Linked DNA regions of Homo sapiens: all the other regions are linked to region 1. The links come from fine-mapping of genetic effects on gene expression. A gene starts in region 1. Each other region holds a variant in brackets. All regions are shown on one strand. Distances are between the middles of the regions.

What was found.
Region 2: its variant is fine-mapped to the expression of ADRB1 in skeletal muscle (GTEx, PIP 0.98).
Region 3: its variant is fine-mapped to the expression of ADRB1 in whole blood (TOPMed, PIP 0.97).
Region 4: its variant is fine-mapped to the expression of ADRB1 in whole blood (TOPMed, PIP above 0.99). The same link has a PIP of 0.9 or more in blood mononuclear cells.

What each region holds. Positions count from the first base shown.
Region 1 is chr10:114,042,568-114,045,252 of GRCh38, reverse strand. ADRB1 (adrenoceptor beta 1) reads right to left here and starts at 1,387. Exons shown (of 1, transcript NM_000684.3): 1 at 1-1,387. The coding sequence starts at 1,120. RefSeq lists silencers at 1,290-1,349, 1,420-1,699 and an enhancer at 1,970-2,019.
Region 2 is chr10:114,001,757-114,004,441 of GRCh38, reverse strand. No RefSeq gene overlaps it. Among named protein-coding and RNA genes, the nearest start is that of ADRB1, 41 kb to the left of the region's middle. The variant T/A (reference allele first, on the strand shown) is at 1,287.
Region 3 is chr10:113,989,813-113,992,497 of GRCh38, reverse strand. No RefSeq gene overlaps it. Among named protein-coding and RNA genes, the nearest start is that of ADRB1, 53 kb to the left of the region's middle. The variant G/A (reference allele first, on the strand shown) is at 1,255.
Region 4 is chr10:114,069,369-114,072,053 of GRCh38, reverse strand. All of the region lies in intron 1 of LOC124902554 (a long non-coding RNA gene), which reads left to right. Among named protein-coding and RNA genes, the nearest start is that of ADRB1, 27 kb to the right of the region's middle. The variant G/C (reference allele first, on the strand shown) is at 1,095.

The DNA.
Region 1 (2,685 bases):
GGTTGAAGGCCGAGTTGGCGTAGCCCAGCCAGTTGAAGAAGACGAAGAGGCGGTCGGGCACCAGCTCGCGGTGGAAGGCCTTCACCACGTTGGCCAGGAAGAAGGGCAGCCAGCAGAGCGTGAAGACGCCCATGATGATGCCCAGCGTCTTGAGCGCCTTCTGCTCGCGCAGGGCCACGAGGCGCGAGGGCCGCCGCTTACCCGCACGCCCGTTGGCCAGCGGGGCGGTGGCGGCGGCGGCGGCGGGGCGCGGGGGTCCGGGCGGCGGCGCGGGCGCGGGGACGGGCGAGGGCGAGGGCGAGGGCGGCCGCGCTGGGCCGCCGAGGAAACGGCGCTCGCAGCTGTCGATCTTCTTCACCTGCTTCTGGGCCTCGCGGAACACCCGCAGGTACACGAAGGCCATGATGCACAGGGGCACGTAGAAGGAGACTACGGACGAGGCGATGGCGTAGGCCCGGTTGGTGACGAAGTCGCAGCACTTGGGGTCGTTGTAGCAGCGGCGCGCCTCGTCGCTCTCCGCCCGCCACCAGTGCATGAGGATGGGCAGGAAGGACACCAGGGCCGAGATGGCCCACACGGTGCACACGAGGCCCCGCGCCCGCGCGCGCGTCAGCAGGCTCTGGTAGCGGAAGGGCGAGGTGATGGCGAGGTAGCGGTCCAGGGCAATGACACACAGGGTCTCGATGCTGGCCGTCACGCACAGCACGTCCACTGAGGTCCACAGCTCGCAGAAGAAGGAGCCGTACTCCCAGCGGCCCCACACCACGATGGTGGCCCCGAACGGCACCACCAGCAGCCCCATGACCAGGTCGGCGCTGGCCAGGGACATGATGAAGAGGTTGGTGAGCGTCTGCAGCCGCGGCGTCTTGGCGATGGCCACGATCACCAGCACATTGCCCGCCACGATGAGCAGCACGATGAGCGCCATCAGCAGACCCATGCCCGCTGTCCACTGCTGAGACAGCGGCTCGGGGCTTTCGCTGGCGGGAGGCAGCAACGAGGCGGGCGGCGACGCGGGCACCAGCAGCCGCGCCGCGGTGGCCGCGCCGTCGGGGAGCGGTGCGGCCGACGACAGGTTACCGGGCTCGGAGGCGCCCAGGACGAGCACCCCCGCGCCCATGCCGAGCTGCGGAGGCCGGGGGCGGGGGGTGTGGCAGGGCTGGGCCGTGGTTGGGGAACACCCCAGAAGCCCGGGCGGCGTGGTGCGCAGAGGGAGGTCGCGGCCGGGTCAGGGCAGCCGCGGCGCGGGGCCGGAGGCATGGGCGCCGGGCGCCTTTCCCGCAGGAGCCGAGCGCTGTCGCTGCCGCTGCCGCCGCCGCCGCCGCCGCCGCTGCTGCTGGAGCCGCTGCCGCTGCTGGAAGAGCCGCCGGGACTTCAGCATGTTTCTGAGCGCGCCGGGCCCGCAGCTCCGGCACCCAGCACCCACCCCACCCCGCTCCCACTCCCCAAGCCAACCCCCGGGGCCTCGCGTCAGGCTCCTGCAGCCAATCCGGGCAAAGGCACGCCCCCGTCTGGTCTGCACCCCCACCTCCAACTCCCCGCACCCCCCTCCCGTTGGCAATTGAGCGGCTCCTGAGAGTCCCGAGCTGATCGCGTAGCTAGTGCCTCCCGTGCGCCCGCGGGTTCCTGCGGACGCACCCCTTCCTGCGCCCGCTGGTTCCTGGTCCCTGTTCCCCCGCGCCCCCTTCCGCGCCTGGCTCCCCCCGGGGCCCCGTCCCCTCCCTCAGCCCCCACTCGCTCCCGCACCCACTCCTGCGCCCCGTTTGCCTCCCGCACCCGCTCCTGCGCCCCGTTTGCCTCCCGCACCCGCTCCTGCGCCCCGTTTGCCTCCAGCACTCGGCTCCCTCCTGCGCCCCCGCTCCCCCCGCATCCCCTCGACCTGCAGTTCCGGGGTTCTCTGCGGAACAGAGCGCTAGCTCCCTTGAGCGGGGAGGGGACCTTGGTGTTCAGGAAGCGCCAGAGCGCCTGGGACAGCTTGTCCGCCAGGCTTGGAGGAGTTTGCCCTGCGAGCTTGGTTGTGATGTGGGGCAGCCTAGCAGGGTGTGTGTAAAACCCTTCCCCCGTCAAGACGGGACCCAGCCAGCATGCGTCGTGACAGCTTGGGGGATTGGAGGTGGGTGTTAGTGGTTAGAAGAAACTTCCCAGCAGAGCGGGTTGCTGGAGCCAAGCGCGCATCTGTCAAGAATGCTCTCTGGGCGCTGTTCTTGCAAGGATCCTCTGTTGAACCTCGAGTGCAGTAGATGTGGAAAGGAAGCGAAGGTTTGTGCATCTAACAGCTAACGCTGAGGGCCCTTTGGAATCGTACACACTCCTCAGTCCTAGCTAATGAACGTGTGAGCATGATGCAAAAATGTATGCTCATGATATGAAAGGAGAGGCTTAGGGAGACAGAAACGTTGAGATACAGAGTAAACGATACCACCGCGAGGGGGAAAAAACGCGTTTAATTACATTTTAGACTTTTCAATGATAACACCTGTATTTTGTGTTTTATTACTCATGTGATTTTATAATTTGAGCTGGGTCAATACAAACAAAAAGGTACTGTCAGTTTATGCTGACGTAATGAACTGCGATTTCAGATTCCTTGGTCTGCGTGCTTGTTTTCTCCTTTGCCCAAGTTCCCAGATTCTCAAAACTCTGAGATTAGTTTTGAAGGGATGAGACAAGAAAACATATAAATAC
Region 2 (2,685 bases), 41 kb after region 1:
GCACTCCAGCCTAGTGATGGAGTGAGACTCCATCTCAAAAAAAAAAAAAAAAGAAAGATTACAGGTATGAATATACTTACGCACTAATTTGGAAGAAGGAAGGGAGGGAGATGGTCATAGTAGCAAAGCCCTAGAGGAGGCAGGGAGAATGGGTGATCCAGGATACCCGTTGGCTGTTGGTAGAGTTTGGCTGTTGATAGGCAGATGGACGCTTGCTCAGTGGTAAGAGAAGACAGGATGGAGAAGGTTCAAATCAATGCAAACAGGCACACAGATTTAAGTTACTTCTGGCTAATTTTTGTTGTGTTTTTTTTTTTTTTGAGACGGAGTCTCACTTTCTCGCCCAGGCTGGAGGGCAGTGGTGCAATCTCGGCTCACTGCAACCTCTGCCTCCCAGGTTCAAGTGATTCTCCTGCCTCAGCCTCCCAAGTAGCTGAGATTACAGGCACGCATCACCAAGTCCAGCTAATTTTTTGTATCTTTATTAGAGATGGGGCTTAACCATGTTGGCCAGGCTGGTCTCAAACTCCTGACCCCAGATGATCCACCCGCCTCAGCATCCCAAAGTGCTGAGATTACAGGCATGAGTCATCGTGCCTGGCTATGTTTTTATTTTTTAAAATATATGTGAGGCAAGATTAGCAGTTGACAACTGGGGTGTAGAAAGAGAGAAAATGTTTGGGAATAGTATCTTGTTCAGTGGGAAAATATGCTTACTAGAAAGAGAAAGAATTAAACTATCAGGCTATGTTGAGGACCACTGGAGATAATACATTTAAAGTGAAATCAGATTACCCACTGACTGTGAGATGACTTTCGGTGGCACAAAACACAGGTTAAATAACAGTGAATTTCAGAGTGAGAACACTATTCTTTTTCAATTCTTTTTCAGTTAATAAGGAGAAAGTCTCCATGTGGTATGAGTATGTCGATAGCATCTCTTAACTTCTGCTACTGTCTCTTTTTATTCAAGACAGAGCAGGCTTCAGACTTGGAGCCTTCCATCTGAAATTACGTCAAGCAGGAATCTAATAATACTCCTTTGCTTTCATGGTACTTAATTTTTTATGACTGTTATGTTTCTGCCAAGTGATACTGGTTTTTCATTTATGTTGATGATATGCAATTTCTTTTAAAAAATAGAACTGAGTTTACAAAGTGAGGAAATATAAAGAGAAATCCGGAGCTGGGCGTGGCGGTGTGCGCCTGTAATCCCAGCTACTGGGGAAGTGGAGTGGGGAGGATCTCTTGAGTCTGGGAGTCAGAGACCAGCCTGGGCTACAGAG[T/A]GAGACCCTGTCTGAAAAAAAAAAAAAATTGGGTTAATAATAGAGTAGGGAACCAAGCACGGTGGCTCATACCTGTAATCCCAGCACTTTGGGAGGCTGAAGTGGGCAGATCACTTGAGGTCAGGAGTTCGAGACCAGCCTGGCCAACATGGTGAAACTCCGTCTCTACTAAAGATACAAAAATTAGCCGGGAGTGGTGGTGCATACCTGTAATCTCAGCTACTGAGAGGCTGAGGCATGAGAATCACCTGAACCTGGGAGGTGGAGGTTGCAGTGAGCCGAGATCGCACCACTGCACTCCAGCCTGGGGAACAGAGTGAAACCCCATCTCAAAAAAAAAAAAAAAAAATAGCATAGGGAGTGTTGGGACATGACCAAAATGGCGACAGCAGCATTGAGAAGATGGGATGCTGGGACACACAGCAGTACCTTGCGTGGCCTCTTCTGATTTTCATCAGGGCAAAATACTTTTAGCTTTTTTCTCTCTTGTACATCACTCACATAGAGAAGATGGGGCGTTGGGACACACTGCAGTACCTCATGTGGCCTGTTGTGATTTTTATCAGGGCAACACGGTTAGCTTTTTTTCTCTCCCGTAAGTTACTCTTAAAGACATGAGACTCAGAGGCCTTGAGGAGGGATGCACAGCCCTGTGGGGTAGGTACCACACAGATGAGTTAGGAGTCCGATTTTTCAGGAGCTGCCACATGGGCCAATCCAGTGACAAGTGCTCGAGTTAGGTGACATGGAGACCCCAGGCGGAAGAGCAGGCAGGCATGCTCAGTGCCCACCCCTCCCCTCCCAGACAGCTGCTGCTCCTGTAATAGAGCCCTCCTGGCTGCCATCTGTACCCATCAGCCCTCTGCAGCACTATCATCCTGCCTGGAGCCTGTTGTCATAGTATTCAGAGCGACCTGCCTGCTTTGCTGTGCGAAAGGGAAAGCTGGGAACACATCTTCAGCCAGTCCAACTTCATTCTCCTTTGGCCTTTGTGAGGGCCTGGATACAACCATTGGATGAATCCAACACTCAAATATTCCCAGTCAGTGGTGCCTTAAGGGAACTTACTTCCTAAATTGAGATTGTGCCTTTCTTGGTAGAAGAAGGAAAAAGTCTCTCTTCTTTGTAATGTATGTGCTAGATGTTATGTGCTGGAGGCACTGCTACTTGACTCTAGCAGTGTAGTATGTTGCACTAACTCTCACCCATTGGCCTGGGACTGTCCCCCTTTTAAAACAGAAAGTCTCACATTCCAGGAACCCCTTCAATCTCGGGCAAACTGAGATGATTGGTCACCCCAATCTTAGGTGGGGAGACAAGTGTATTGGTGTTTCTCTTGGACACCAAAGAATGTTTGGATGATTGTGTCCAGAGAAACTGTGTTTTGACAAAGTCAAAG
Region 3 (2,685 bases), 53 kb after region 1:
CCACCCAAATGTCGAATGCAGCTTGCTTTCCACAAGACACCCCGCTACAAGACTGTGGCACTTGGCCGACTTTACTGATGGCCTGGGGGAGATGGGGCGGAGTTGCAACAGAACATGACGCTGCGGTGACCTCTGTGTGCTTTTCCCTCCCAGGACCTCGGTCTCCTGAAGTGGTACTAGTCCCCTTTTGTTCCTGGGAACGGGTCTTGCTGTTCCCAGGTTTTCTCCCATTTTCTCTAGCCTCCCTGGCTATCCCATTCGTCTCTGCTAGACTGCCCCCAAATCTTTACATTCCTCACACTTTATTTTGCTTCTGAGCTTTTTCCTTTTTTAAATTTTCTTTTTATTTTTTGAGACAGGGTCTCGCTTTATCACCTAAGCTGGAGTGCAGTGGTACGATCCACAGCTAACTACAACTAAACTCAAACTCCTGGGCTCAAGCCATTCTCCAGTCTTGGCCTCCCAAAGTGTTGGGATTACAGGCATCAGCCACCGCACCAAGCCTGCTTCCAAGCTTTCTGATCTCACCCTTCCCCAGGCAGACTATGTTCACAGGCCTCTCCTCCCTCCTCCACCTGGCTCACAAAACCAATAAGGATACTTTTATCCTCAAGAATGAAAGAAAGAAGCAACAGTCTGCAGCAGAGAGGAATTATGCCATTCTTCTAGAAGGCAGCAGAGGCCCCCATCAACAGATTGGGTATTAGCTTTATTTCTCACTAAGCCATATCGCGCTCTTTTGGTCTAAGATCATGCAGGTTCTTTGTTGCACTGTGATCTAGGTTCAGGTACATAGTAAGTGTCTCTTATATGCCAGACATTCTAGTGGGTACTACAGATACAAGAGTGGACAGGACTGACAAGTTCCCTGAACTCACGCAGCTGAGGCAGACAGCCACATGCGGACTGTGGAAAGCCCCAGAAAATGCCTAGGCCCCACTCCAACAACATCCTATTTTACCTCTCTGGAAATTCAAGTTGCATGGACAGTAGCCGTAAAGTCTTGGAGTCATCATCCAGCGTCTACTCTGGTTCTGCCTCTGCCCCTGGCCAGGGGCTGGTGGCCAGTGCTGGGGACACACATTCACCATCCAGGTGGTAGCTGGAGAAGAGGCGAGAGATAACCTGGGGCCCAGAGAGATCAAGGCTGAGACCGCAGAACACCCACAGAAGCCGCGGCATTGCATTCCAATTTCTGTTTTGTGACCACATCTATGGACTCAGAATGAGGCATGGGGGAGCCACAGGAGCCAC[G/A]CATGCCACAATTATGGTTTTCAGCAGTTGTGCTCTCATCATTGTGGTTGGGCAGAGAGGCTTAGAACATGTACAGAAGAGAATGATTCTGAGCCTGCCAAGTGCTAAAATGCAAGGAAGCAGTTTAAAGCAGCCTCAGGGAGAAGAACCAGACCCTTCCCTGGCTCCCATGAAACTGGCTGAGACAGAAACCACTGGACTTTATTCTGTGTTTTAAAATTCTATATGCTTTACTTTCATTTCTTCTAGAATTTTCTGCTGTGCTTTCACTGCTATTTTCCAAAGGCATGAAAATAAAATCACTGGTTGACAACAAAGAAGCCACCTAAAACTTTGGTTCTGACCAACATGTGATCTAGACGAGAGCTTCTCAAGCTCACAGGCACATGAATCCCCTGAGGATCTGGTTCAAATGCAGATTTTAATCCAGTAGCTCCAGGGTGGGACCTGAGATTCTGCATTTCTGACAAGCTCCTGGGTGGTGCAAAGCTGCTGGACTGCGGGCCACCTGGGTCTACCAACACCATGTCTATGGTTCGGAGTCATGATGGGATAAGGACAATGGAACACCCGAGACAGGACAAGAGGCATATGTCAGTGACCAGGAGAGAAACAGCCTTTCTTTTCCCTCTGCTCTTCCCAAGGCTGCAGTTTGTGCTCCTGTAACTGGGTCTGATCTGCTGATGTTCATTCTCACCCTTGGCAGGCACCCTGGTCCCCTAGAATATTCCCATCCTTCAAGGAGGGAGCCATGTTTCCGAGACCCTTTACCTTTAGTAAGAAGAGCAGCTCTGAGTTCCAATATAGAATTTGATTTTTTTCTCGAACCAAAGTTGTATGGCCTTGGCCTGGGAAGGAATTACTCTCCTTATATTGCACAAGAGGAGATATGATTTATAATAGGCCTGATTGTTTCCTTGTTTATTCTTCACAACAAATCTGCAAGGAGTTCTTTCTATCTCCATTTATAGATGGGGGATACTGAGGCTCCAAGAGCAATCAGGTGACAAGTCCTAGGTCACGCAGCTGATCATCTGCAGAGCTGACTCAACAGACTGAGTTCTTTCTATCACATCTCACTGCCTTTCACTTATGCAGTTATTTAAAAAGCTTGGGGCTTGCCTGGATTTCAGACACTCTGAAATCCATTATTTCTGACCCCACTACCAAACAGAGTGACCCTAAATTGCTAAAGAAAAGAGATGAGTCTTTAAGTACCAGGCAAGATTTATTAAATAGACCAGTGGATTTACCCTAATGAACTTTTTGAATTTCGAGGGTAAAGAAAAAAAAGCATTGTAAGCATCCAGGAAAATTATTACAAATGAATAAATATCAGTGTGAATTTATAATTTTCCTGCATTACATGAAACAAAAGAAGCAACTGAACAACATCCACATAATTTGGGAAAAAATGCTTATGAACTACTA
Region 4 (2,685 bases), 27 kb before region 1:
TAATATACCAAAGAAATTCAATATAGTAAAAAATGAAAATGCTCTGAGGGTAAAGAGAAGACCCTTCTGTCGAATTGGAAAGCCTAGGAGATACCAGCAAATGACCTAGATTGTTGAAGCAAAAAATAAAAAAGGATTTTTATTAGGAGAAACTGACAGAGGGCCAAGTAAAATGTCCTGTGAAGGCGTCGCAGAGGACTTGACCAAAGGGTCTCTGGTACCCTTGTTCTTTGGTTTCAGCCACAGATGGGAATCTGGAAATACCCAAAGAGGTCTCCTTTGGGTGCTCTGCCTTCCAACCAGCCAAAGTTAAGCAAAATTCAAACTGTTGGCAGCCCTGTCCCCACCTCTAAACTCCTCCCATCCTCTCTAAGCTCCTCGGCCTCAAGCAAGGGTGGAAGAAGCCCACTGAAAACCACTCAAATATAGAAAATACCCTCCATTTTTCCAATGACCTATGTGCCACCTTTATTGACTTCCACTGACATACCCATGGCCTTCGTCAGAAGTTAGGGGACAAAATAAAAAGTGCATCATAGAAAGAATTGCAAATGTTACCTTAGAAGGACAAGCTTAAAGTTCAGTGCCTACAGACACCCATTCCCTCTGCTCAGTTTGAGCAGTTCCCTCTCTGGTATAATCCCACAGAGGTCAAGTTTATCGAAACTGGGGTGTCTTGTTCCCTCCAAAGTGGATGACACCCTTCAGATGTTTTCTTGAAGTGAGATGGGGAAGTCTGCCCACTAAGTTCCAGCGCTCACGAAATTTGAAAATGATAAAGTGATGTGTTGGAATTCAAGCTTGCAAATCCACATCTACATGTGACTCCTTATTAATAGATAATGCTGGAAGGACTGTGGCTGCAAAGTACATGTTTTGGAAATTATGTAAATATGTGTATTTATACAATGGATTATGAAAACCTTTGAAAAACAAATTGGGGTATTTACATCACAGACCTTGAGACTCCAAAAAAGTTGTTATGCTCTTTTATGTCAACTTCTGTTCACCAGCATGAGGTCTTTTAAAAAATATTGCCTAGGCAATGAAATAATGAGAGGAAACCACAGGAAAAAAATGAAAAACGTTAATGA[G/C]CCCTCCCTTCCGACCATTACTTTGCATGCTTTAAGGGGTGGAAAAAGAGTATCTTTCAGTGCAGGGAAGTTACAAACTGTGGTCAGAAATGAAAAGAGAAAGCAAGTAAGCCTTAATATAAGTCAGCTGAAACTCCATAAGAAAAGAACTACCAAGGCTGGCGGATCACTTGAGGTCAGGAGTTCGAGACTAGCCTGGCCAACATGGTGAAACCCTGTCTCTACTAAAAATACAAAAATTGCATCGTGGCAGGCACCTGTAATCCCAACTACTTGGGAGGCTGAGGCAGGAGAATCGCTTGAACTGGGAAGGTGGAGGTTGCAGTGAGCCAAGATCGTGCCACTGCACTCCAGCCTGGGTGACAGAGTGAGACTCCATCTCAAAAGAAAAAAAAAGAAAAAGAAAAGAACTGGAGCATTTACTTTTTTCTACTTGAATGAACTTTGTAGCCTGAGGGAGGGATGAAATGATTTAATTCTGGGAAAGAAAAAAAATGTGCTTTTCATCTTCAAAGCACTTTTATTTCAATAAAATAGCTCCATAACAAACATATCAAGGCTGATTAGTACTCACTGCAATTTTAAAAAATGTTGTGCTTCTTAATTTGATTTTTTAATTTGATCAATCAGAGATCCTCATGATACTCTGTGAGGTGCAGTTAATGTCTTCCTTTTGTCCATAATACTCATCACCTGAATCTTTTATTACCTAATAGGAACATTTGCCCTGTGGGAATCATCTTTTTTAAAGTTCTCAAAACTAGTGGTCTCCATATGATGTAGAAAAATGGATTTCAAAATGGATTGGCTGAAAAATAGCAAGTTGTAGATTCATGCCTATACTATGATGTGGCTATGGATTAATATCTACAATATGCTAAAAGTAATAATTAATTTTAAAAATAATAAGACAAAGCCAGGTGCAGTGGCTCACACCGGTAATCCTAAAGCTTTGAGAGGCTAAGGTGGGTGGATGGTTTGAGCTCAGAAGTTTGAGATCAACCTGGGCAACATAGTGAGACCCTGTCTCTACAAAAGATACAAAAAATTAGCCAGTCGGGGGTGTGTGCCTGTAGTCCCAGCGACTTGGGAAGCTGGGGTGGGAGGGTCGCTTGAGCTGGGGAGGTGGAGGTTGGAGTGAGTGATGATCCAGCCACTGCACTCCAGCCCGGGGGACACAGCAAGACCCTGTCTCAAAAAAAAAAAACAAACAAATTAGTAACAAGACAATATTCTATGATGTATCCATGTGTATGTGTGTATAGTGCATATATACACACACATATATATATATATTAACAGGTATGACAACTTGGTAAAGGAAACCTACTGAATTCATGATAGAGACTGGCTCTGGGGAGGAAAAAAGGAGACTAGTACAGGGTAAGAAACCAAGGAGCTTCAACTTGTCTTTATTTTTTAAAATACATTTAGGGCCGGGCGTGGTGGCTCATGCCTGTAATCCCAGCACTTTGGGAGGCTAAGGCGGGTACATCATGAGGTCAGGAGTTCGAGACCAGCCTGGCCAATACGGTGAAACCCCGTCTCTACTAAAAATACAAAAATTAGCCGGGCGTGGTGGCACATGCCT